Linked DNA regions of Homo sapiens. The protein of the gene in region 4 interacts with the protein of the main gene of each other region in a pairwise test. Each region holds a gene or a part of one and is shown on either strand. Other genes may lie near its edges.

What was found.
Region 1: the proteins of KRTAP13-3 (region 4) and PRKN interact in binary tests that used the Homo sapiens proteins (3 or more experiments, as listed by UniProt).
Region 2: the proteins of KRTAP13-3 (region 4) and RBPMS interact in binary tests that used the Homo sapiens proteins (3 or more experiments, as listed by UniProt).
Region 3: the proteins of KRTAP13-3 (region 4) and MLX interact in binary tests that used the Homo sapiens proteins (3 or more experiments, as listed by UniProt).
Region 5: the proteins of KRTAP13-3 (region 4) and NOTCH2NLC interact in binary tests that used the Homo sapiens proteins (3 or more experiments, as listed by UniProt).
Region 6: the proteins of KRTAP13-3 (region 4) and DNM2 interact in binary tests that used the Homo sapiens proteins (3 or more experiments, as listed by UniProt).
Region 7: the proteins of KRTAP13-3 (region 4) and TCP11 interact in binary tests that used the Homo sapiens proteins (3 or more experiments, as listed by UniProt).

Annotation. Positions count from the first base shown.
Region 1 is NC_000006.12:162,259,267-162,262,766, forward strand, and holds part of PRKN (E3 ubiquitin-protein ligase parkin), read right to left. Parts: intron 3,500-3,500; coding exon 3,259-3,499; intron 1-3,258. UniProt on the Homo sapiens protein: Functions within a multiprotein E3 ubiquitin ligase complex, catalyzing the covalent attachment of ubiquitin moieties onto substrate proteins. Substrates include SYT11 and VDAC1.
Region 2 is NC_000008.11:30,503,041-30,506,540, reverse strand, and holds part of RBPMS (RNA-binding protein with multiple splicing), read right to left. Parts: intron 2,362-3,500; exon of another isoform or gene 2,256-2,361; coding exon 2,105-2,255; intron 1-2,104.
Region 3 is NC_000017.11:42,565,700-42,569,899, forward strand, and holds the start of MLX (max-like protein X), read left to right. Parts: upstream 1-1,400; 5' UTR 1,401-1,425; coding exon 1,426-1,467; coding exon of another isoform or gene 1,468-1,629; intron 1,630-1,919; coding exon 1,920-1,956; intron 1,957-2,770; coding exon 2,771-2,860; intron 2,861-3,137; coding exon 3,138-3,244; intron 3,245-3,504; coding exon 3,505-3,604; intron 3,605-3,807; coding exon 3,808-3,907; intron 3,908-4,200. Other genes in the region: COASY (bifunctional coenzyme A synthase), read left to right, coding at 1-106, 207-269. UniProt on the Homo sapiens protein: Transcription regulator. Forms a sequence-specific DNA-binding protein complex with MAD1, MAD4, MNT, WBSCR14 and MLXIP which recognizes the core sequence 5'-CACGTG-3'. The TCFL4-MAD1, TCFL4-MAD4, TCFL4-WBSCR14 complexes are transcriptional repressors.
Region 4 is NC_000021.9:30,424,880-30,427,419, reverse strand, and holds KRTAP13-3 (keratin-associated protein 13-3), read left to right. Parts: upstream 1-1,493; 5' UTR 1,494-1,507; coding exon 1,508-2,026; 3' UTR 2,027-2,040; downstream 2,041-2,540. UniProt on the Homo sapiens protein: In the hair cortex, hair keratin intermediate filaments are embedded in an interfilamentous matrix, consisting of hair keratin-associated proteins (KRTAP), which are essential for the formation of a rigid and resistant hair shaft through their extensive disulfide bond cross-linking with abundant cysteine residues of hair keratins.
Region 5 is NC_000001.11:149,389,348-149,393,420, reverse strand, and holds the start of NOTCH2NLC (notch homolog 2 N-terminal-like protein C), read right to left. Parts: upstream 2,801-4,073; 5' UTR 2,634-2,800; coding exon 2,499-2,633; intron 1-2,498. UniProt on the Homo sapiens protein: Human-specific protein that promotes neural progenitor proliferation and evolutionary expansion of the brain neocortex by regulating the Notch signaling pathway.
Region 6 is NC_000019.10:10,773,579-10,777,078, reverse strand, and holds part of DNM2 (dynamin-2), read right to left. Parts: intron 1,377-3,500; coding exon 1,173-1,376; intron 1-1,172. UniProt on the Homo sapiens protein: Catalyzes the hydrolysis of GTP and utilizes this energy to mediate vesicle scission at plasma membrane during endocytosis and filament remodeling at many actin structures during organization of the actin cytoskeleton.
Region 7 is NC_000006.12:35,127,840-35,131,339, forward strand, and holds part of TCP11 (T-complex protein 11 homolog), read right to left. Parts: intron 1,344-3,500; coding exon 1,223-1,343; intron 953-1,222; exon of another isoform or gene 739-952; coding exon of another isoform or gene 718-738; intron 581-717; exon of another isoform or gene 444-580; intron 1-443. UniProt on the Homo sapiens protein: Plays a role in the process of sperm capacitation and acrosome reactions. Probable receptor for the putative fertilization-promoting peptide (FPP) at the sperm membrane that may modulate the activity of the adenylyl cyclase cAMP pathway.

The DNA.
Region 1 (3,500 bases), on a different chromosome or scaffold from region 4:
TCTCCCACCCAGCGTCCGATTGTTCCGTGAGAACAACAGGTAGGATCCATAATTGTAAGGCTGGAAAACCTTAGCCATAGGGCAGAGTTTCTCAGAGTATGGTCAGTACCAACATTTTGGGGCCTCTACCCCCAGACAAATACATCAAAATTTCTGGTCACAGAAAAAGAATGAAAGAAGATTTTTTTTCTCGCCATTCTGGCCATCAAAGAAACATGGAAAAACATGCAAGATAATTCTGCACATGAGAGTCTGTGAATCTCTGCTCTAGTAACTTTACGCTATCATTTTTAGTGAAGAAAAATAATCATATAGGCATACTGTTTGCATATAGTCATTTCAAATCATTCCATTCAGTCTTAACTCAAACCAAGAATGAACCAAGACATTTGAAGAGATGAAATCTCAATTTCTCTGTATAATTTTAAATAAAGCATTCGCTCTAAAAGCTAAATGCACAGGAGTTCTGTTGAATGACTGACTATGTTTACAATTTGAAGCAATTTAGTAAACATGTATCACCACTCTTCTAAGAGATTTTGGGGAAAACTACAGTTAATTGGACAAAAACTCCATCCTCAAAGAGATTAAAAGGTGAAGTCAGAACTGGAGTACAAAATAGCAAGTAATAAGGGAGAGTCCTAAGAGTTCTGAAAAGGATTCCCTCCAGTTCTAATGAGCAGGAGAGGATTACTTGTAGTTTAGCTGTTAGTTTAACACAGAGTTAAATCTGAAAGTTGACCTGGGATGCACCATCTCTCTTTTCCCAATCTTTACAGATGCAACATATCTTTACAGAGGCCTTTTAGTAGCAGCATGTAGGGTGCCAGGAAGTTGCCCCCAGTGTGTAGTGGTGCAGGGAGAAGTGTTAGGATGGCAACCCTGCAGCCCCCAACTGCACCATGTAGAGTTGCCTGAGCCAGTCCCTAGCCTGCCAAAAGCACAAGGCTGGCAGGCCACAAGACAGAGGGGTAAATGAGAAACAGGGTGATCAGAGGTTAGATGTGACTCAGACATGAGTGGAAAGTCAAGGTGAAACAGCGCATCATCATAGATCATACAGTACTCTGAAGGCTGCTGTCATTTACCACATTCCATAAATTTACTAGAATTTATTCTCTATTGTTTGGGTTGAAATAATCACACATTTCAATTTAAAAATATAAAGAGAATATTAGACATTTAGCAGAATTTTCTCAGTGCCTACTGGTACTTCAGACCCTATATAGAGAGAATACTATATTTTCTTAAAATATTATGGTCTAGAGAGAGAGAGAGAGTCAGTTGAAAGTGTCAATAATTCTAAGTTCATTCTCATAAAAGAAAATTCTGGAGAAGACCAAGGGCAATTTTATGATAAAACAAAATAAGAAGACTAAAATTTTCAGATGAATATGGTTGATAAGAGAGTAGAGCCAGATGCACTAGGAAATGTATTAAAGAACATGAATATGTACACAACAGGATTCTTGTGCTCAAATTGTTTTTAATATTCAGATAATAAGTAAAGGTTTAATTTTGCTCTAAACAATGTGATTTTTTTATTTTTAGTAAGAATTTTATTTTGGGAAATCAAATTAAAGAACTAGTAGATAGGTCTCCTAACATAATAAATCCAATCTGTTATACAGTTGTACAGGAACAAACATAGTAAATATAGGGTTTGGTACCATTTTTGGTTTCAGGCGTACACTGGGGGATTTGAAACGTATTGCCTGTTGATGGGGAGGGACAACTGTACATGTGAGACACCCAGAAAAAATGCATAAATCTCAAAGAGGTGCCTAAAATTCAGGCTTGAATACCATCTTCAATGGCAAAGGAAGAAAGGGAGAGGAGAAGACAAGAGTAAGGTTTGTTAGGCAGATTATTCAGTTGGTGCCTTCTCAAGGATCAGAGTCTCCAGAGACTCTGTCCTCCTCATCCTAGTAAGGAGAGGGAGACACCCTTACAAATGGAGACTTCCTTGGTAGATATAAATTTCCCTTACAAAAGGGTCACTTCTACTCTGTTTTTAGAGCTTTTCCTGTGTCTACTGTTTCTCAAAATAATCAGCTTAAAATAATACTTATGCTAAAGTGGCATATTTTGGGGTGGCATATTCTGGTCTCATACACACTCAAGGTGGAATTTTCCATTGTTTGGTTTATAATGTTGGAGCATGAGTATTCTCTAGAGGTGTCAGTGTCAGAATGATCTTATACATACTCTGGTTGAAACGTCAGAATTGTTATGGGCTTGGGTTCGATATTTATATTAATATATTATTCTGGTCACAAGAGTATTGCAGGGGTTTAGATTTATCTCATTTTTCCCCATTTTTGACATTTATTTCCATTTCTCAATTTTTCTTTCCAGACCTGAGGTGCCCAGCTCACATGAAGCAGAGCCTCTTTCCCTCCCACAATCATCTCAAGATCACCAGAGCATCAGTTAATGCCTTACTTTCTGGGCTTATCTACTCCTGTATTTAAAGATGTTGTTTCTACATTTTCACTTGTCCTTGGAAATTATCTTTTTTTATTTTTTGCAAGATCATCGAAAATTTTTAAGTTCCTTAAATTTTATTTAGTAAGTTTAGTAGGAGGCATTTCTTATTATGTTAGGCTTCCATCTTGCAGGCCCCAGAACTTTCTGACACTGTGAAGGCCATACCAGCCCACAACTGCCAGGATCTATTGTATGTGGGAGGAAAATCAACTTCTACCCTGTAAAGTCATTGTGATTATTTTGTGTCTTCTGTCAAACACAGTAAAAATTAATTCTATTACACCTTTGACTATTTAGATTAGAGAATAAAAGACTAAGAGGCACATATTAATTTTTTTAAAATAACTAAACAATAACAATCTTTGCCAAAGAAAAGCATTTTGAAATGGGTGGTAGCATAGAGAGAAGGAAGAGTCCTTTCACACTAAGGATGTCATTGCCATTGGCATATCTGGCTTTAGAAACTACAAATGGCTCGATTAGCTTTAGAGTTCTTTCTGCTTTTTAGAATTTTTCTACATCACTAGAAACATATCTCTTATATTTAATCTCAATATGAAAACCTGTTTCATAGTACTTACAATAAATGCATTCTCAAATGTTACATCAAAGTACTCCACCTACAGTGATGTCTCCTTGTAGTGAATTAGAGACTCCAATCCAAAACGTATCATAAACTAAATATGCACCCGGTGAGGCCATGCTCCATGCAGACTGCACTAAACAAACAAACAAAATGCTTTAATAATCTTAGAGCATTCCAATTACCTGGACTTCCAGCTGGTGGTGAGTCCTTCCTGCTGTCAGTGTGCAGAATGACAGCCAGCCCCACAGAGTCTCCTGGGAGGACTGAGCTGCTGAGGTCCACCCGAGTCAAGCTCTGGGGCTCCCGCTCACAGCCTCCCGCCGCGTTTCTGGGGTCGTCGCCTCCAGTTGCATTCATTTCTTGACCTTTTCTCCACGGTCTCTGCACAATGTGAACAATGCTCTGCTGATCCAGGTCACAATTC
Region 2 (3,500 bases), on a different chromosome or scaffold from region 4:
AAGCAAGTTGTATGTGACGGTCAAGTTCCCAGTTCCCAGAGGGAATGGCAATGGATAATAAGGTTGACCTGAGCCATAGTGGACTTGCTCTCCTCAAGATGCTGTGTCGTAAAAATGAGCTATATTAAGATAAATCATGCTGACTTTTATTTTCCTCAAGAATACACTGCTGGCTGCTTGGATTTTTTTTTTTTTTTTTTTTTTAAACTTCAAATTTGTGTTGCTGTGAACAGCTGGGCAAGTTTTTACCCTGTCATGGAAACTATCTGGCCATTTTTGCACTGTTCTGTATGCTGGGAAGGGAGGTGAGCAGAGCTTGCCAGAAAAGAGTTCTAAGCTCAGTTTCTATGCTCTCCTGTAACTTCAGGGACTTGTGAATGTCCAGTTTGTTCCTATTTGTTGCTTTTGTATAGCATGTCGTAATCTGGCTACAACCTTCCTGGCTACCTATTTCACAGGGCTGTTGTAGGAAATTCAGAAAAAGTTTCGTGGTCCTGTTAAAAAGAGCATTCAGCAAAGAATTGAAAAGGTAAAGTTAAGTATCACCAGCATTACATTTCCTGCCTGAATTAATCTTTTCAAAGAACTCTGAGATCTGAGGCTGGCAAATTCACTAAAAAGGCAAAGAATTACTTTAGGTTATTTTTACTAAATCAGGCATCCTAAAAATACTCTTTTTTGATGCCTTGATCAAGAGAGAAGAAATTTCAGAGAGAAGAGGCATACAAATGCATCTACAGTTCTACAAGTAGCCCAATTTCAGTATCAATTTATCCACTCACTATAATAAATATTAAATATATACAATATACAAAGTATTAAGCTAGATACTATAAGGATGAAGAATTATGTAAAAGATGTTCCTATATCCTCCTGTACTACAAGTACACTGTAAGATGTAACTTTTGTTTAGATTTCCTTCCCAAATAAGCAAAGGTTTCTAGTTTCCCTGGGACAAAGAAGGTGAAAGAACAAAATAATTTTTTTTAATCTATTATGACTTTCTGGATTCATAGAAACATTTATTTTAGAACATTCAGGGAGACTTATCTGTTAGTTTCTACTGATGAGTACCAAGAGTGACTGAACTACAGAATGGCTGTGACTTCCAAAGATAACCTGATTAAATCTGACATGCACATGACATGGGGGGAGCAAGGAATCCATGTGTCCTTCAATTTCAATAAGAAGAGTTAAAATGTACTATCGAAGGAAGAAGATCACAACCGTGTGGTTTAGAAAGCAGACCAAAAACAACAGGACAGAAATATTCCAAATAACTTGGAATCCAAGTCACTTGGGTTTCCTTGAATGCCCTGCCATATTAAATCACATATGGCTCTGCAATGAAAGGAGAAGTTAAGGCCTGTCTCATGCCCCACTTCTGCCACTGACTGAGCTTGAGAAAGCAAATTCAATCTTTTAAAGTTATTCAGGGAAAGGCAGAAATGGTAGTCTGGACATATAATGAAATAAGCTTATTAATGTGGGGTAGAAGACGTCTTGAGCAATTAGCCAGTGTCCTTATCCAATTAAGTTGGAAAAGAAAGCCCCAAATTTCCTTAAAGTTTTACTGGTATTAGTTTGCTAGACTGACAGTTCCAATATATACATTCTTTGTATGTGTTTACTTTTCCCCCTAGAGTTATGGCTAAACTGAATAGAACCAAATTCCCAAGATCTGCTTCTTTCTCTTTTAATATCCTATTTTTCCAAAGCCACCGAGCTGATGTCCTTCAACAAATGGATTAAAGTAAATGCTGAGAACCAGCTCTCGTGTCCGAGCAGGGGGGAATGAAGGGTTTATACCCAAGGCAACTAGGGGCATACTCATGATGGTCAATATAACATTAAGGAAATCTGTAGTACATCAAATGATATTCTGAAGTTATGGTTCTATTCAAGCTGAACCATCTTTTGGGAAGCCAATCACAAACAAGATTGCTGTATTTGGAATTCTGACACCAAGAACGCCTAGGCAACCTCTTCACAGAAATGGAAAATAAGACTCAGCCAGCTCCATGTCCCATGGTGTAACCTCACATGCAGCACATGAACAGTTCTTAGTTATTATTACTTTTGAATGAAAAGTAGATCGACTTACATGGCTCTCTGGCAATGAACTGAGGTACAGTGTTGGGCAGAGGAGTACTGGGGTTTGGAGTCCCTACGAGTTTGTTCTTGGCCATCTTCGTGTTTGCCTTAGCAAACTCTAGTCGTAGTGTTTGCGGAATTTCAGGATCGAAGCGGATGCCCTTTGGAAACAGAGAACAAATGGAAGATGTTTTCATTTCCTTTGAGTCAAACCGGAATGGTGACAAAATAAACACACCAGTAAACCCTGGTCTATCAGGAAAAAAGGTCAGCAACCACTCTCATTCTTACTACTTACACAGGTTACATGAAAAATGACAACACAAAGTGTCCCGAAAGTCAGTGGGATTTAGTTTAGTTAAAAAATGTAGTTACACAGATTTTCAACTATTCCTTTTCTTTTTAGACAAAAACTTTTCAGTTTAAAATTTGAACCAGCAAATTCCTAGCACAGTTACACACTTTAATATATAGTAATTTCAGTTACCTCTGACCCTATTCCTGCAGTTTACCTAAAATAGATTATATTCAGTAAAACAAATCACAGACACTATGAAAGACACTAGCGCAAGACAAGTCTATTTGGAACCTTTCCACCATTCAAGAATGTCTTCATTATTAAGCATCCAATACCATGAATTCTGGACCCTACGTGTCAAAAAGATATCCCAAGAGAGTGTATTTTAAATGTGCACCCATGGGACCCACTCAGTTCCCATGTTTTCATGGTGTGGTCTGGAAAGGGACTGGAGTCCTGAAAACGAGTCTCCTAAGAACACAGTTGCCATTTAGTGTTCTGAATGTACACACATGGGCCTGAGGGCTCCAAAGCATCCCCCGCCCCCTCGCCACCATTCTTCCTAATGAGCTTGAAAAAAAATAAGAGCAGGCAGGGCGTTGTGGCTCATGCCTGTCATCCTAGCACTTTGGGAGGCCGAGGCGAGTGGATTGCCTGAGCTCGGGAGTTCAACACCAGCCTGGGCAACATGGTGAAACCCCATCTCTACTAAAATACAAAAAAAAAAAAATTAGCTGGGCGTGGCGGCATGCACCTGTAATCCCAGTTAGTTACTTGGAATGCTGAGACAGAATTGCTTGAGCCCATGAGGCAGAGGGTACAGTGAGCCAAGATCGCGCCATTGCACTCCAGCCTGGGTGACAGAGCTAGACTCTGTCTCAAAAAAAGAAATATCCACAAAAACAAGACTCTCTTACTCTAGAGACCAGGATGAACAACTCTGAACTTCACAGGCTCAGCTTCAAGTATACAAGGAAGAGCCTGTGGCTGGATGGTAATGGCATTAACAGGAAACAAGGGGGGAAGGGGAAGGAAAGAGAGGTCCTTAGGGAGGCCTAACAAAAGCCACAGAGCCCTGACCCAGAAGTCTTGGAGTGGGTGGAACTTC
Region 3 (4,200 bases), on a different chromosome or scaffold from region 4:
CGCGGCTCAAAGCCGGCTGCAGAGCCAGATGAGCGGGCAGCAGCTTGTGGAACAGAGCCACGTGGTGCTCAGCACCTTGTGGGAGCCGCATATCACCCAACGCCAGGTTGGTGCCCAGGGCAAGGCCGGGTTGTGGGGAAGGAGTCTCCAGTGGGTACTGCCTGACCCTGCCCTCTCTTCCTCCCAACATCCTGGCCTGTCTGAAGGTGGAGAAAGCCTGGGCCCTCTTGCAGAAGCGCATTCCCAAGACTCATCAGGCCCTCGACTGAAAAGTTCTCAGTGGGGCCAGACTGGCTCCTGGAGCTGACAAGCGACCCCGTGGTGAGGAGAAATGGGGGCCTTGATGCTCACCCTGGTTCAGGCCCAGAGGTCCAAGCTATACTGTGCAGGACATGGCCAGGCCTGGTGGACACAGGAAGCCTACCCAACACGCTGGTATTTGGCCAACACTGAGGATGTGGTTCATGGGGGAGCAGTCCCCTCCCCACTCTTGCCCATGGGTGACTCTTACCCACAGCTGACTAGGGCCAGCGCAAATACTGGAACCTGTAACAGAATTAAAGGTGAATGTTCTGAGATGTTGCTTGTATGGTGTCTGCTTCCTGTTCCAATGCCCCTAAGTATCTTTGGGATCCTTAAGCCACAAGTGCAGGGCCCAGGCCTGAGCTGGAAGCCTGGGCAATGCAGTGGTTAAGAGAATGGCCTTTGAGGCTAGCCAGAGGCGAGCTTTGGCCCTCCCACTGACCAGCTGTGTTCTTCTGAGTAAGGTGTAGACTTTCTAGGTACTGCCGTGTTTTATTGTTTTTGTTTTGTTTTTAATATGAGAGGCCGCATAACCTAGCTAGCAGGTTCTTTGCAAGGGTTCATTCCACATGCATCCTGCCAGACACTGGGCTGGGTGTTGGAAGATCAGCCTTCCGCGCGCCAGGCGGGGCCTCTGCCCTCACAGAGCTTGCAGCCTGGTGGGGTCGGACGATGTGGCTGGGGGCTTCTCTGCCCGGTTCCTGACACACCGGCCAGCAGTGCAGGTCCGGTGAGCGCGGGGAGGCCGCCCTCAGGGTAACGTGGGGAGCCGGCCGGCCGGACAGTGCGCGTGCACACACTATCTGCGGCGGTGTGCTGACAAGCCAATTGAGGGGACTCCATCTTACAAAACGCGCTTCATGTCGCCGCCATTCCACTGCCTAACCCGGGGAGGGCAGGCACGGCGGGGAGCAGTCTCGAAGGAGGCTGGCGCCAGGCCAAGCGCCGGGCCTTGACGGCTGGAACCGTGGAGTAAAGTCTTTGGGCTGCGCATGCGCGATGCTTCGCCCTGCCCCACCTCTCGGTCGCGGATTGGCGGGCGCGGGTCACGTGGGCACGCCACCCGCTTCCTCGCCGCAGGGGGCCCGCCCGCTGGCCCGTTTCCGGTCCGGTGGGTACAAGATGACGGAGCCGGGCGCCTCTCCCGAGGACCCTTGGGTCAAGGCAAGCCCCGTGGGCGCGCACGCCGGCGAGGGGAGGGCGGGTCGGGCTCGTGCACGTAGGGGGGCCGGAAGACGAGGGGCTTCCCTCCTGTCCCCAAAGTCCCCCACGCTCTCCGTGCCCCGGGGCTGCAGAGAAGACAGCTCTCACCCCGCGTGTGCCAAGGTGGGGAGACAAACGAGGCGTGTGCGCGCGAGTCGGGGGAACGGGGCACTGGGGTGGAGTAGGGGCGGAAGGGATCATACACAGGGGAGGCACTCGCACGCCCTAGCCTGTGCCAGTCTCGGGGGACTCATTAAGCTGCCCGCGCACCCCGGGCTGTGTGTGTGCAAGCGCGCAGGGTGACAGAGGCGCCTTCCCGGAATGGGGGGCGCGCTGTGCGTGCCTGCAGTGGAAGGGGCGCCTCCCCCTAGGGGCGGAGGTCTGACGGGCCCTTCCCGTGCTCTGTGCCGCAGGTGGAGTATGCCTACAGCGACAACAGCCTGGACCCCGGTGAGTAGCTGCCCCATCTTAAGCTCTAGAGGGACACTCCCGCCCAGGCTCTCTAGATTCTTGTGGCGTTGCCAACCACGCCTGAGCACAGTCCACTCTCCCTGAGCAGAGTTCCTGGCTTGAGACAGCAGGAGCTGAAGGACAAGGGCAGAAAACAACTGAGGGTGACACCTAGTTCCCTCTGCTCTGGAACAGGGAAGTGGTGGAACTGATCACTCACCACTCAGTGGAGCAGCTGATCACTCACACCCTCATCACGTCCACATGCCCGTTTGTGAGCCAGGGGGGTATCATGCAGGCCTATGGAGCAGTGTAGACACTAGGGAGCAGAGCACTGCAGCGTGGTCTGGCAGGAAGTGGGGGGCCCAGTATGGTTGGCTTTGGGTTGAAGGGAAGAGGTCAGCATTTAAGAAAGCCATTGTGTGGCCGGGCGCGGTGGCTCACCCCTGTAATCCCAGCACTTTGGGAGGCCGAGGCAGGCGGATCACGAGGTCAGGAGACCGAGACCATCCTGGCTAACACGGTGAAACCCCGTCTCCACTAAAAAATACAAAAAAATTAGCCGGGCGTGGTGGCGGGCGCCTGTAGTCCCAGCTACTCGGGAGGCTGAGGCAGGAGAATGGCGTGAACCTGGGAGGCGGAGCTTGCAGTGAGCCGAGATCGCGCCACTGCACTCTAGCCTGGGCGACTGAGCGAGACTCTGTCTAAAAAAAAAATAAATAAATAAAAGAAAGCCATTGTGTCCTACAGGTGTCTGAGGGTCTGGCAATGTTCCCCACCCCACCCCTTAGTGATTGGGGCCTCTCTTTTCCAGGGCTTTTTGTAGAAAGCACCCGCAAGGGGAGTGTAGTGTCCAGAGCTAATAGCATCGGTTCCACCAGTGCCTCTTCTGTCCCCAACACAGGTAGGCAGTAACATCCCCCCCGACCTCGGGGGGCTCAGATATGTCATAATTGTAGTACCTTTCCTAGACAGGGAAGCCCCAGCCATCCACACAGGGGTGCTGGAGCCAAAGTATCAGACACAAGGTCTCACCATCTTTCACCTCATCTGGAACATTAGGTGGTTCTGTCCATCTGCCTTCTCTGGACACCAGGTTCTTCCCAGCTGGGGAAAGGTGGGCTAGCTGGACCCCACTGGGCCCCAAGATGACCTTTCCCTGCCCCCATCTCTGAGCGTAGATGATGAGGACAGTGATTACCACCAGGAGGCCTACAAGGAGTCCTACAAAGACCGGCGGCGGCGCGCACACACTCAGGCTGAGCAGAAGAGGAGGGACGCCATCAAGGTGAACAGGGAGGCCTGTGCCTCAGCCAGTGCGGGAGGGCCCTGCATAGTTTAGCTTCCCTGTGCCCTGACCCACTCAGACAGTCCCAGGCACCCTAGGGGGTGGGCAGGTAGTATAGTCCCAGGCACAAACACCTCCCTTGCAGCCTTCCCACCCCATTGAGTTTGTGAGCATAGAACTTGGTGTCATGGAGGAACTTTGTGCCATTTTGCTTTAATCTCTCAGGGTTAAAGAACCCATTTCCCCTGCTGTTTCCACAGAGAGGCTATGATGACCTTCAGACCATCGTCCCCACTTGCCAGCAGCAGGACTTCTCCATTGGCTCCCAAAAGCTCAGCAAAGCCATCGTTCTACAAAAGAGTATGGCTAGGGAAAGCACTGGAGGGGATGGAGCCAAGCGGGGCTGTGAAGAGGCCAGTGCCTCCTACCCACCCATGGCTCGGCCTTGGTGTGGTGATTGCCATGGGATAGTTGGGGTCTGGGGTAAGGGGAACAAAGTCAGCCTTATCTTCTTGGTTGAGAATACTTCTGTACCTGTCCTTTTTTTCTTGCCCCCACCCTAGCCATTGACTACATTCAGTTTTTGCACAAGGAGAAGAAAAAGCAGGAGGAGGAGGTGTCCACGTTACGCAAGGATGTCACCGCCCTAAAGATCATGAAAGTGTAAGAGGGGTGCTGAATGGGGGGAACCAGAACTTCTGAGGCAACTTCATTGCACACCCTCCCTTGTTCAAAGGCCACATCAGTTACTGCTGTACAGATAATACTCTTAGTTCCTGAGCTAGCCAGTAGGACTGTGTATCCCCAACTGTCCTTACACATGGCAGACACTCAGGAAATGCCTGTTGGATTAATGTAAGGAAGGTTGGAGAGAGAGGGCCACCTTTCCTGACCTGGAAGCAGTATCTCCCTGATACTGAACCCCACCCAGAAGCTCTCTGGGGCTGCCATTCCTG
Region 4 (2,540 bases):
ACGAAGCACGGCTGGGGAGGCTTCAGGGAACTTACAATCATGGCAGAAAATGAAGGAGAAGCAGGCAGTCCTACAAGGGAAGCAGTAGAAAGAGTGAAGGGGGAAGTGCTACACATTTTTAAACAACCAGATCTCATGAGAGCTAACTCACTAGCACGAGAACAGCAAGGGGGAAATCCACCCCCATGATCCAATCATCTCCCACCAGGCCTTCCCCAACACTGGGGATTACAATTTGGCCTGAGATTTGGGCAGGGACACAAATCCAAACAGTATCACTTTTTAAAAAGTATAAACAAGATTAAATATTTACAGATTTTCTGCATTTTTTCTCTTTCCAGAGTCTCCCCTGAGAGAGGCTGGGAGAGTTGTAAGATTTGGACATAGGTCTGGCCCAAGTGAAGGAGAAAGAGAAAGAAGTGCTTGAGACCTATGCAGGAGACAGTAGTTCTTTAAGGCCGTTGAGGAAACCCTGAGTCAAAGCTGGCCGTCAATTGTCTTCCAGGAATTCCTATATCCCACTGTGCTCAGTCTTTGCTTGGGAGCAGCCCAGAGAAAGCAAGCCTTCCCCAAAAATGCAGTGTTAACTTTTAGAACACAGCAGGTAGGACCACTGGTTATTTAAGCCTCCTGTAATTTAAGATCCGAGATGAGAATTCTCCAGGCTGCCACACATATGAATGAGAATCTCTTAGGACCATGGGCCTCATATTAGATGCATTGAATCTAAAATTCATTTATTTTTTTCTGTCATTTCAATGGTGTGTGTTTATTTAACACTTTAATTCTCTTCATAAGGCCCCAGAATTGTTTTTCATTTGTGATTGTCTCAGTTCCATCCCTTGCTGTCACCATGTCTCCAAATAATTGTCCAGGTTTCCTTCTGGTCATAGGCATCAATGTTATTCAATTTGTCTTGGCTCATACTTTTCCCTCTACACTGGATGTGAGACACAGTGAGTAACAGTACATAATAGATGAAGGAAACTTTTGTGGAATGAGAAAGGATGGTGACATGTAGGTTTAGTTTTCAGCAGGTTTCTCATTAAGGCCAAAGTTGTGTCTCTAATCCATTGACAAAAAAGACATGTAACTTTATCTCATTTCTCACTGTTTAGGGAAAATTATTGCCCATAACAGCCAATAACAAGACACATGAAAATTATGCTAGGAGGAAAAGGAGGTGCTTTCCTAGACATAATAAAATAAATATTAATACGAAACAGTCATAGCATTTCTGGCATAAGTGCAGTTCATTGGCTTTGTGCTATAACACCAAAATTATAGCACGCATAAATACAACATGTGGAAAAGTATTCAAATGCAATTACAGGCAAGATTGCTGAGCTACACATATGTAAATGAGGGAGCACAAAAATGTGAGGGATGACTCTGCTGTGCACCACACCTATTGCTGAGAGGATATAAATGACACTGTCCAGGATGCCACGTTAAAACTCAGAATCTTCCCAGGTACACTCAGCTGAACTCACATCTTCCCGTCAACATGTCCTACAACTGTTGCTCTAGAAACTTCTCCTCCTGCTCCCACGGGGGTTACTTGCACTACCCAGGCTCCTCCTGTGGCTCTTCCTACCCCAGCAACCTGGTCTACAGCACTGACCTCTGCTCTCCCAGCACCTGCCAGCTGGGTTCCTCTCTCTATAGGGGCTGTCAGGAGACCTGCTGGAGGCCCAACAGCTGTCAGACATTGTGTGTTGAGTCCAGCCCCTGCCACACCTCCTGCTACTACCCCAGGACTCACATGCTCTGCAATTCTTGCCTGACTATGCATGTTGGGTCTCGGGGTTTTGGATCCAATAGCTGCTGCTCCCTGAGCTGTGGATCCAGGAGCTGCTCCTCACTGGGCTGTGGATCCAATGGCTTCAGATATCTGAATTATAGAATCCATACCTCCCCTTCCCAGAGTTATAGATCCAGATTCTGCCATCCAATCTATTTTCCACCTAGAAGGTGGTTCCATTCATCTTGTTATCAGCCATTCTGTAGATCTGGTTTCTACTGACTAATGTGGTGACTGGTAAAACTCATTTGAGAAATGCATATTCTTTAGTAAGGTCATCTGTTAATTTCTTCCTTTGAGAAGTATTCTAATATTATTGATCACCAGGTCTTCCTTACTTTCCAGCCCTCAAAAACTGGGTTGTATGTTAGTTCTGTCAAACTGCAGTTTGGATCAATGAATAATCTATAACTGGATCAATCTGGATCTATAACTCTGGGAAGGGAAGGCATGGATTTTATAATTCAGATATCTGAAGCCATTGGATCAATGAGTGATCCAAACTGCATTATAGATATAATTTATAGTTTTTGTATTTCTTTCCAAAAGAGATAGGAAGTGAAAAAGATTTTATTTTAATAAACTCTTTATTCTTCTGTCCAAATGTGCTGTTAATATTGCTATTTATTAGTAAAGCATTGTCTAGGATGTGCATTGTCATTGCTTCTGGTAATGGGCTTTGCAATGCCCAGATTGTGGGATCTCCACACTAATTTTGGTTGGGCTTTAGATATTT
Region 5 (4,073 bases), on a different chromosome or scaffold from region 4:
AACACAATAATAAATTAAGAGGATTCAAGAAGCCTTCACTGTAGACTCTAAGAAGATTTAAGATTTGTACCAAGAAACAGGCTTCTAAATCTCTTCTACTGCATTAGTTTAGCATCTAAAGAACACCTGTCTAAAAATCAAAATATCTAAATCCTATCCTTTGAGTCAACTTGACTAACACTCAACTTGACTACCTAAAAGCTAGCTAATAATCGCAGCACCTCAGCAGAGCAGAGGTGGAGGGCATAGTTTTATGCACTGAGATCCTATAATAAAAGAAGCCCTATGTGTCAGAGTAATCCCATTTCTGACATATTATTTAATACTTTTTTTTTTTTTTTTTTTTTTTTTGAGACGGAGTCTCGCTCTGTCGCCCAGGCTGGAGTGCAGTGGCGGGATCTCGGCTCACTGCAAGCTCCGCCTCCCGGGTTCACGCCATTCTCCGCCTTAGCCTCCCAAGTAGCTGGGACTACAGGCGCCCGCCACTACGCCCGGCTAATTTTTTGTATTTTTAGTAGAGACGGGGTTTCACCGTTTTAGCCGGGATGGTCTCGATCTCCTGACCTCGTGATCCGCCCGCCTCGGCCTCCCAAAGTGCTGGGATTACAGGCGTGAGCCACCGCGCCCGGCCAATACTTAATTTTTCAAATCACTTTACAATCATATTTATTATTCCCTACAATTCTCTAAAGCAGGTTATTCCTTTAGTCCTGCTTCATAGGTGAAGAGACTACATATCATGAAGATTAAGTTATTTACCAAAACAAGTTAATGATAGACCAAGGATTATTACCCTCAGACTGTCTCATTGATTATACTCCTCTCTATCCTAAAGCTACACTTAAAGCTTTCATTCAAAGAAAAAGGAAAAGCAAAAACACCATCATATATGCTCTTTATTAAATGCTTCAGAAACAACAGCTCTGCTTCATCACTACAAAGCCTCCTGGTCCACTTCTGAAATTCTTAGTGACCTAGACGTGTACGAAATTTGAACTTTCCAAGAAGTATCTAGTTGGTGCTGAACAACCCAGTACTATTTTCGGGTGATAAATAACCTTGTTCTCTTTTTAAACATCTGCGATTGACATGTCGACTGACTGTTAACAATGAACAAAGACCATATTTTTCTGAAGCTCATCATCTTCCTAACCTTTTCTTTGAAAACAGATGTAGTTCATGTACTAGTTTTTTGGTGAAGGTAAAAATCTTTATTCAGATTAGGCTCAGAAAAAGAAGGGGCTGCTTTCCGTTCAACAAATATGCACAAGACACCATCCCACTGGGAGCATCAATCTCAGAAGCAGTAAAACACAGCCTCGGCCCTCAAAGGACTTTCTGAACACCTTTGGAGTGTCATCCGTTTAATATACATTATTTTAATTAATCCTATTAGCTGGATAATTTCATTCCCATTTTATTGGTGAGTTCATATAGCAGAGCTGGATTTGAATCCAGGATTACAGAGCAGGGCTCCAAAGCCCAAGTTATTTCCACTAAAGGGTCTGAAGAAATGTAGAATCTAAAAGTGTGGGTGGGATGGGGAAGATATGATTTGATTCCCTTTCCTTGGTCCAACCGTGTTAGAAACATCCAACCATAAAGAAGCTTTCTAAGGAAGCCCTTTGAATTGACGTATCCACTTTTTCTCACCCGCCCGTGCCCCACCCCCAGCCATGCCAAAGGAGCAGCAAATGCTGCTGCCAGGTTGGAGGAATTGGTGATCGTCACACCACATTCCTGGGTCTGGACACAGCCTGAAACAGCAGCAGAGCTCCGCGCCTCGGAAAGAATAACAGCAGTTGAGATTTTTAAATCATGTGCCTCAGCATGCAGCCACACCAGTTGCCCTACTTCTCCTGCCTCCACCTTTCAAAGACGCGAGCAGCACACCCGGCTCCTCCGGACTTTCGGTGGGGTTGGAGTGTCAAAACTCAGGCGCGCCGCAAAACCCCGTCCCCATCCAAACCAAGCCCACACACCCGGCCCATGTGCCGCCCCCTGGCAAAGGCGAGGCTGGCTGCGAAGGTGCAGGCCGTTTGGCTTGGCGGCCCTGCCCCCGCTCTCCACGCCAGAATCTGGCACGCCTTCGCTCAGCCCCTCCGAGGCCCGCCGTCGGCTCTCGCTCGACCCCAAGAAACGCGGAACCTGAAGGGCAAAACTGCCCACCTCCCTGCACCCTGGCACTACGAAAAAGGAGTTTCTGAGACTTGCTGCCGGCCTCCCTCCTGCCGAGGAGGCGTGTGAGGGGTCCCGGGCCGCGGGGAGCAGAGGCGGCGGGGAACCCCGGCGGTTGGCGGGGAACCCCGGCGGTTGGCGGGGCACCACGGGAGGGGCCCCCGGCGATGTCCAAACTCTCGGGAACCCAGCGAGTGGCCTCGCTCCGCGCCGGCGGCCGAGCCTGGCCTTCCCACACAGAGAAGGACCGAGGGGGAGAAGGGTCGCCCCAGGTGGCAGCCCCGGGCGCCGCGGACAGCGCCCCTCAGCCCGATACTCACCATGCGCGGGGGTCGCGCAGCACAGCCAGAGCGCCAGCAGCGCCCACAGCAGAGCGGCGCAGGGCGGGCATCTTCTCGGTCGCCGCCTCCTCCGCCGCCGCCGCCGCCGCCGCCGCCGCCTGGGCAGATCCACATGGGGAGGGGGTCCCGATAGAGGAGCCCCACTCTCTCCTCCCCTCCTCCTGCTTCAAAGGCTCAGGCCCTGGCGCTACGGTCCGAAGCACAGGCGCAAATGCCTCGACTCCCCGCGCCCCGAGTCCGCCGCTCCTCGGCCGCCGCCTCAGCCGCCGCCCGAAGTTTGGCTGAAACTTTCTCGGGTGTGCAGCGAAGCAGCCTCGTGTGTCCTTCCGCCTCAGCCGCCTCCTCCCACCGCAAGCCCCGCCCCACTGTCGCCGCGGCCTCGGCCCCGCCGCCTTGGGCACCCAGGGGTTTCCCGCAGGAAGAAGCGCCGGCCCGAGCTCCGCGCGGAGGGATCTACTACGAGTCACTGGCCCCGTCCGCATCCTTCTCCAGCAGCCTTAACTCGATCAGGGCTGCAGCGGCTCGCTGGCTTGACCAGTGCAGAAGGGGCGTGGAGGTGAGGGGGGTGGGGTAGGACTCTGAACTTCAAGCACTGGAGTTTGCCGGGATCGTGAACTTGCAGGGAGAGGCGGTCCTCATCCAGTGAGGTCTGTATCGCCACCTACACCCACACATCCACACACTGCTTTGCTAGCTAGAGGAATGCTCTGGAGTAGGACCAGTGCTGTCAAAGAAGGAAAGTGGGCCAAGGCGCCAAAGTCCATTAAAAAGGAATAGAGCCATCACGGAGTGGTGCTGCCCCATTCATTCATTCATTTGTTCATCCGTGTAGCGAATATTTCTTAAGTGCCTTACTTTGCGTAGCTGTGTGCTTGGCAGTGGGATGATACCAAAGATGCACAAGCAACTTTGAGTACCAAGACTTTGCCGCTGTGGGCTGGGGGATTCAGGGAAGGCTTTCCCAGAGGAGCTGGGATGAAAGCAGGATCTTGAAAGGTCAGTAAAATTTGTATAAGACAAGGAGACCAGCTAAGCTAAGGATATTCGTTGTAACACTGTAATAGCAAAACCTTGAAAACAACATAAATGCCCACCCTTAGAGGAATGGATGAATAATGTATGGTATATTTATAAAATGAAATGCAACACAGTAATTGAAAAGACTATAGCTATTTATGTCAATAGGGATAAATCTTAAAAACTAAATGATAGTGAAAATAATCGCAGAGGGAGACAAAGTATACCATTTATGTATATTTTTTTCAAGACAATACTACACATTATCTGTGGATGCATATATATAGATATAGATATAGATATTAAGAGACTATAACCAGAATAGTAGTTACTTCCAGGGCAGGAGAGTAGGGGGTGTGATCAAACCTGGGTACAAGTGGGCTAAGAAAAGAGCTAAAAGTAAGAACAACAACAATAGTTGTATGGACATATCATTCCAGGAAAGAGCCCTCGTGAAAGCAAAGGTACAGTCAAAAGAGTAAGTAAATGAGTTCTGTCTCTGTTAGCAGTGAGAGGAGTCAAGGACGGAAAGGGGGT
Region 6 (3,500 bases), on a different chromosome or scaffold from region 4:
AGGAAAGAGCATCAGCTGGCAGCTGCAAGCCACCTGGGGTCCAGTTGGCCCTGAAACTTCCAGGTCACATCACCTGGGAAAGCCAGAACGTCACAGGCCTGGACCCCAGTTTCCGACATGTCGAATGAAGATGGTCACAGCCCTGATCTCACAGGGTGGTCATAAGGGTGAGCCTGGCACACGGCAAATACTCAACAAATGCTGGCCGTTATTGTCATTTGTGTTATTAAGGACAACCTCTGCTGCTGCAGGCTTTGGGAAACCTCACGTAAACATGATTCCTGGGCCAGATTTTGATGCTGGACTTTCCAAGTGCCGGCAAAGTCCCAAGGGAACATTTGAGTTTGACACGACTGTTTCCAGGACTACCTCTTGCCTGAATGGCTAAAATTCCACTCTGGAAACCATCCCATCCAATTCCACCTCTCCACAAGTCATTCCAGAGTCAAGGATGTCTTTCTAGCAAAGTCTCACCTCTGCAGATCAACTGCTCCCACGGGGGCTGAGGGCCTGGCTCTGTGCTAACCGTGTGTGTTATATGTGTGGCATGTGCATGAGACACTGGGGACAGATGGAAGCCAGAGTGAAGATCTCTGGTGGGTGCCAATTTGGGCATCAAGGGGGCCACAGCTGTGCCCTCCCTGGGGCCCCTTCCTGCTCACATTCTGCAGTGAGGGTTCAGTAGAAGGATCTGACTAGAGGGGCCCAGGGGTGTCAACTCGAAGGGAAATAGACGATCTCACCATGCAAAGATCAGAAACAACCCAAAAGTTCAACAGTCCTCACATCAGCTATCTGGGTTAGGACTGAAGTTCCCGTTCTGACTAAGAGGGGACCATGTCTCAGGGAGCAGAGTAACAGCTAGATGGGACCTAAGATCGCATCTGGGCGATGGAGCGCTGGGCCCTTCCTTCAGCCCTAGGCTAGCTTCCCACTCTGGCAACATGGGCACTGCCATGTCCAAGGAGGACCGTCCAACTGCCACACAGTGACTTCCCAGGGGATGCCCACCAGCACTGCTGGTTCTCGGAGGAAGTGCCATGTTCCAGGAGGCCTTTTCCTACAGCGGCCATGGATTAAAGAGAACGCCAGTGACTTGGAACCAAGGATGCTGGGCACATCCCATGCTCAGAGGCACCTGGAAGAGGGGACTGCCCTAGGCTCAGGGTTACCTTGGGGATCGACTTCCTTGGCCAGCTTGAGGGCGTCGGAGTTGGCCAGGTCCATGTTGGCGGGCGTGACAGCCAGAATGAGGCTGCTCTCCCGGCTGATGAACTGCAGGATCATGTCCTTGATCTGGTACTCGATGTCTGGAGGCTGGTCGCCCACAGGCACCTTGGTGATACCCGGGAGGTCGATGAGGGTCAAGTTCAACACTGGGAGGGAAACCAGAAGGAAAGGCATTCAGAGCCAGGAGAGGGGAGGCACAAACAGGCCCGCAGCCACCCAGCTGACTACCAAAGTTCCTGCGCGGGGCTCAGACTTGAGGATGTCGCCTGACACTCTGCCTGAACCACACCTTTGATCCAGTAACTCCCCTTCTAGGATCCCATCCTACAGATACCTTCTACCTACTCCATTTCAATGGCACAGTTCTAAATCAGGACAGTTCAGACTGGAATAGACCTAAATGACTGAATAAATTTCAGCCCATCCATTCAGCCAATACCAAAGAACCATTACAGACAAACAGATGAGGCTGGGTGCGGTGGCTCACATCTGCAATCCCAGCACTTTGGGAGGCCGAGGTGGGTGGATCACTTGAGGCCAGGAGTTCTAGACCAGCCTAGCCAACATGGCAAAACCCCATCTGTACTAAGTATACAAAAATTAGCTGGGCGTGGTAGCACACACTTGTACTCCCAGCTACTCTGGAGGCTGAGGCATGAGAAACACTTGAACCCAGAAGGTGGAGGTTGCAGTGAGCTGAGATCATACCACTGCACTCCAGCCTGGGCGACAGAGCAAGACTGTCTCAAAAAAACAAAAACAAAAGACAAATGGATGAGGCCAGGCGCGGTGACTCATGCCTGTCATCCCAGCACTTTGGGAGGCCATGATGGGTAGATCACTTGAGCTCAGGAGTTCGAAACCAGCCTGGGCAAGATGGCGAAACCCTACCTCTACCAAAAATATAAAAAATTAGCCTGGCATGATGGTGTGCATCTGTTGTCCTAACTACTCAGGAGACTAAGGCGGGAGGATCGCCTGAGCCCAGGAGAAGAAGTGAGCCAAGATCTCACCACTGTACTCCAGCTTGGCCAACAGTGTTAAACCCTGTCTCAAAAAAAAAAAAAAATAAATATATAATAAAGAAACATTCTGAGAGGCATACAAAAAAAAAAAAAAAGCATAGGCCAACGCAGTGGCTCACACCTGTAATGCCAGCACTTTGGGAGGCCAAGGCAGGCGATCACCTGAGGTCGGGAGTTCGAGACCAGCCTGACCAACACGGACAAACCCCGTCTCTACTAAAAATACAAAATTAGCCGGGTGAGGTGGCGCATGCCTGTAATCCCAGCTACTCAGGGGGCTGAGGCAGGAGAATCACTTGAACCCGGGAGGTGGAGGTTGCGGTAAGCCAAGATTGCACCATTGCACTCCAGCCTGGGCAATAAGAGTGAAACTCCATCTCAAAAAAAGCATAAGTGATTTTTATGTTATGCTAACAATTTAAGGAAAAGGAGTGATAAACACATACACAACATATACATAGATACAATCACAATTGCTTACATGTTTTTTGCTTACACATTTTTTTTAAGATAGAGGGTCTTGCTATGTTACCCAGGTGAAGTGCAGTAGCTATTCACAGATGTGATCATAGCTCACTGCAACCTCGACTTCCTGGGCCCAAGTGACCCTCCTGACTCAGCCTTTCAGGCAGCTTGAATGACAGGTGTGTGAAACCACACCCAGCTCATGTTTGCATTGTCATCTGAAGAACCTAAAATATGTGTGCAAAACTGGTTGACAAGGTAGGTTTTTGCGATATACCTTTCTGTAATTTTTGAATTCTGAGCCACATGCAGGTGTCATTTATTGAAAAACAAATTTAAAACTTATCGCAAGGAACCCATCATGGTAGCAATCTGTGCCTCTGGGCCAGAGGATGTCTATGGCCCCGGGCTGCTGTTTGAATGCAGAGTTTTAAAATCAGGATATTTGGCTGGGCAAGGTGGCTAAAACCTGTAATCCCAGCACTTTGGGAGGGGGATGCAGGCGATCACCTGAGGTTAGGAGTTCGAGACCAGCCTGGCCAACATGGTGAAACCCCATCTCTACTAAAAATACAAAAAAGTAGCTGAATGGGCTGGGCGTGGTGGCTCACGCCTGTAATCCTAGCACTTTGGGAGTCTGAGGTGGGTGGATTGCCTGAGCTCAGGAGTTCGAGACCAGCCTGTGCAACATGGTGAAACCCCGTCTCTACTAAAAATAAAAAAAATAAAAAATAAAAAAAAAATTAGCCAGGCAGGGTGGTACACACCTGTAATCCCAGC
Region 7 (3,500 bases), on a different chromosome or scaffold from region 4:
AGAGCGCATGTGGAAACTGAGTAGCCGAAGGGGTGGACTGTGCCATTTATCAATATATTGCCTCACAGATCCAAATCCATTGTTCTTTGCTCTGTGAAAATGGAACTAAGTCCTTTCCATATCTTTCCTTTGCCAGATAGCACATTTTAAGCTTCACCGGCAGAAAGTGTTATTTAGTTTTCTGTGCTGTGTAACATACTGCCATAATCCTAGCAGCTTATAAGAACACACATTTATGATCTCAGTTACTGTGGGTCAGAAGTACAGACGCAGTTTAGCTGGGTCCTCTGTTCAGGGTCTCACAAGTCTGCAAGCAAAGTGTTAGCTGGGCTGCATTCTCATTTGGAAACATGACTGGGAAAGATTCCGTTTCCAAGCTCATTCAGATTGTTGGCAGAATTCATTTCCTCACAACTGTATACTTGAGGGCCCCAGCTTCTTACTGGCTATTGTCTGGATGCTAACCCCGGGTCCTAGAAGCCACCTGCAGCTCCTTGCTATGTGGCCCTCTCGATAGGCAGTTCACAACACAGCTGTTTGCTTCTTCAGGGCCAGCAGGAGAATCTCTCCCTCCAGTCTCCTAAGACAGAGTATTACATGATGAAATGTAATCATGGGAGTTATATCCCATCACTTTTGCCGTACTGCTTAGAAGTTGCAAATCTCATCCACTCAAGGGGAGAAGATTATACAAGGGTGCAGAACATTGTGGGTCACCTTACGGTATGTCTGCCACATACTAGAAAGACATTGCAAAGGCAAGAGCTTTTATTCCCGGTTCTGGTATGTTCACTCAGCAGGCTCCTGCAGTACTTGGCTCCTGCAGCATGAATAGCTTCTCCAGTGCTTGGTTCCTGCAGTGCACTGTGGTCAGCAGCATACACAGGCCAGTAACGTCTCATGGCATAGCTATGCCCTCTCAAATGAGGTCCTTGGTTGGCCTCTCTCAGCCCTAAGGGTATGATAGATGCCCTTTTATCTGATATTCAAGGATTCTTTAGTTTTCCTTACTCTTACTAGCCAAGCCCTCATTTCTCCTACTCTCTGTTATAATAATTTTTATATTAAACCCTCCCTGCTAAAATTACTGTATGATTTCTGTCTATTGCTTAGTCTCTGACTGATTCATGGACCATGTTCAGTTAAGATTTGCTAGCCACTGACACTCCAATGAGCTGGAGATGTCTAGAAACTTTACATTTACAAATGGAAGGTCACTCACCTCTTTAATTTCTTTCAGAAGTTCAAGAGCACAGCTGAAGTCAGGGGGAGTTGCTGATAGTTGCTCTTTAAGATGGTCCCAAAAGGCATTGTGCACTGTCTCCTTGACCTTGCCTTCCAGACTATAAGAGGGTTAAATGAGCAGATTACTCTCTCAACCCAAAAACAGTTACAGTGTCATAACCTCCTAAACCCCAAACTGAATTTGATATGGTAAAAGGCCATTATAATAACAGGGAAAGGCCAGGAACTATGTTGGAACTGCAGCAGAGTTGAACAAGCTAGGGTTAGATTTGTATTTCAAGGGCAATGGCAAAACCTCTCAGAAGGGCTCCTTGTGGTTCCAGAGCAGCCCTCTCTCTGCAGTAGAAAGAACCCTGAATGGAGAGAAGTCAGGCTGACTTTTAGCACTGACTGTGCATCTAGCCTAGATAACTTGATTTCCATTTGTGTATACACATAGCATTGAGCTAAATGATCTTTCATTTTCTTATACTCCTGAAATCTAGGAAAGGATATTGCTTCTTTGAAAATACCAAAGGTCCACAGATATTTCCAAATCAGCGTATCTAAAACTAAATTCATTATCTTCCTCCTCCAAACCTGCTCCTCTTGTATTCCCAATTTCAGTGGCACTACCATCTATATAGTAATGGAAGCCAGAAAGAAGTCTTTTTTTTCACCTTGAAAAAAATACAAGGAGCAAAGGAAATTTGTTTTATTTTATTTTTTGAGACAGGGTCTCACTCTGTTGCTCAGGTTGGAATGCGATGGCACAATCAAGGCTCACTGAAGCCTCAACCTCCCACGCGCAAGCAAATCTCTTGCCCCTGCCTCCTGAGTAGCTGGGACCACAGGCATGAGCCACCGTGCCAGCTAATTTTTTTATTTTTTTATTTTTAGTAGAGATGGGGGTCCCGCTATGTTGCTCGGGCTGGTCTTGAACTCCAGGGCTCAAGAAATCCACTTGCCTCTGCCTTCCAAAGTGCTGAGATTACAGACGTGAGCCACTGCACCCAGCCAAGGCAATTCAATTTAGAAATGAGGGTCTTTCAACAAATAATGTTGGAACAACTAGATATCTAAATACAAAAAAATAAAGAATCTAAACACAAGCCTTAAACTCTTCACAAAAGTTAACTCAAAATGGATCACAGACCTACTTGTAAAATACAAAACTGTAAAACTTGTAGAAGATAACATAGGAGGAAATATAGGTAACCTTGAGTTTGGTGATGACCTTTTAGATACAATGCCAAAAACATAATCCACAAAAGAAAAAATTGCTAAGTTGGACTTCATTAAAATTAAAAACTTCTGCTCTGTGAAAGACACTGTTAAGAGAACAAAAAAACAAGACACACACTAGGAAACAATCTTTGAAAAATATATATCTGATAAGGATATATATCCAAAACATACAAAGAACTCTTAAAACGCAACAATAGGAAAATGAACAACCATTAAAAAATAGGCCAAAGACCTTAACAGACATCTCACCAAAGAGGATGTTCAGATGGCAAATAAGTATATGAGAAGACGCTCAACATCATTTGTCATTTGGGAGTTGCAAATTAAAACAACAAAAAGAAAAAAAAAAGACACCGCTATATGACACCTATTAGAATGGCCAAAATCAGAAAACTGACAACACTAATGGCTGACCAGGATATAGAGAAATAGGAACTCACATTCACTGCTGGTCAGATGTAAATGGTACAACCAGTTTGGAAGGCAGCTGGGCAGTTTCTTACAAAAGTAAATATACTCTTACATATGATCTGGCTATCACGCTCCTGGGTATATACCAAAATGAGTTGAAAGCTTATGTTCACACGAAAACCTGCACACAAATGTTTATAGCAGCTTTATTCATAAGTGCCAAAACTTAGAAGCAACAAAAATGTCCTTCAACTGATAAATAAACTGCCCATAAAATGGAATATTATTCAATGATAAAAAAATGATTTGGGAGGCTGAGGCAGGTGGATTACTTGAGGTCAGGGGTTCAAGACCAGCCTGACCAACATGGTGAAAACCTATCTCTACTAAAAATACAAAAATTAGCTGGGTGTAGTGGTGTACGTCTGTAATCCCAGCTACACAGGAGGCTGAGGCAGGAGAATCGCTTGAACCCAGGAGGCAGAGGTTGCAGTGAGCCAAGATTGTGCCACTACACTCCAGCCTGGGCAACAGAGCGAGACTCCATCTCAAAACAAAAAGAAGGCCGGGCGCGGTGGCTCATGCCTATAATCCCAGCACTTTGGGGGGCCGAGGCG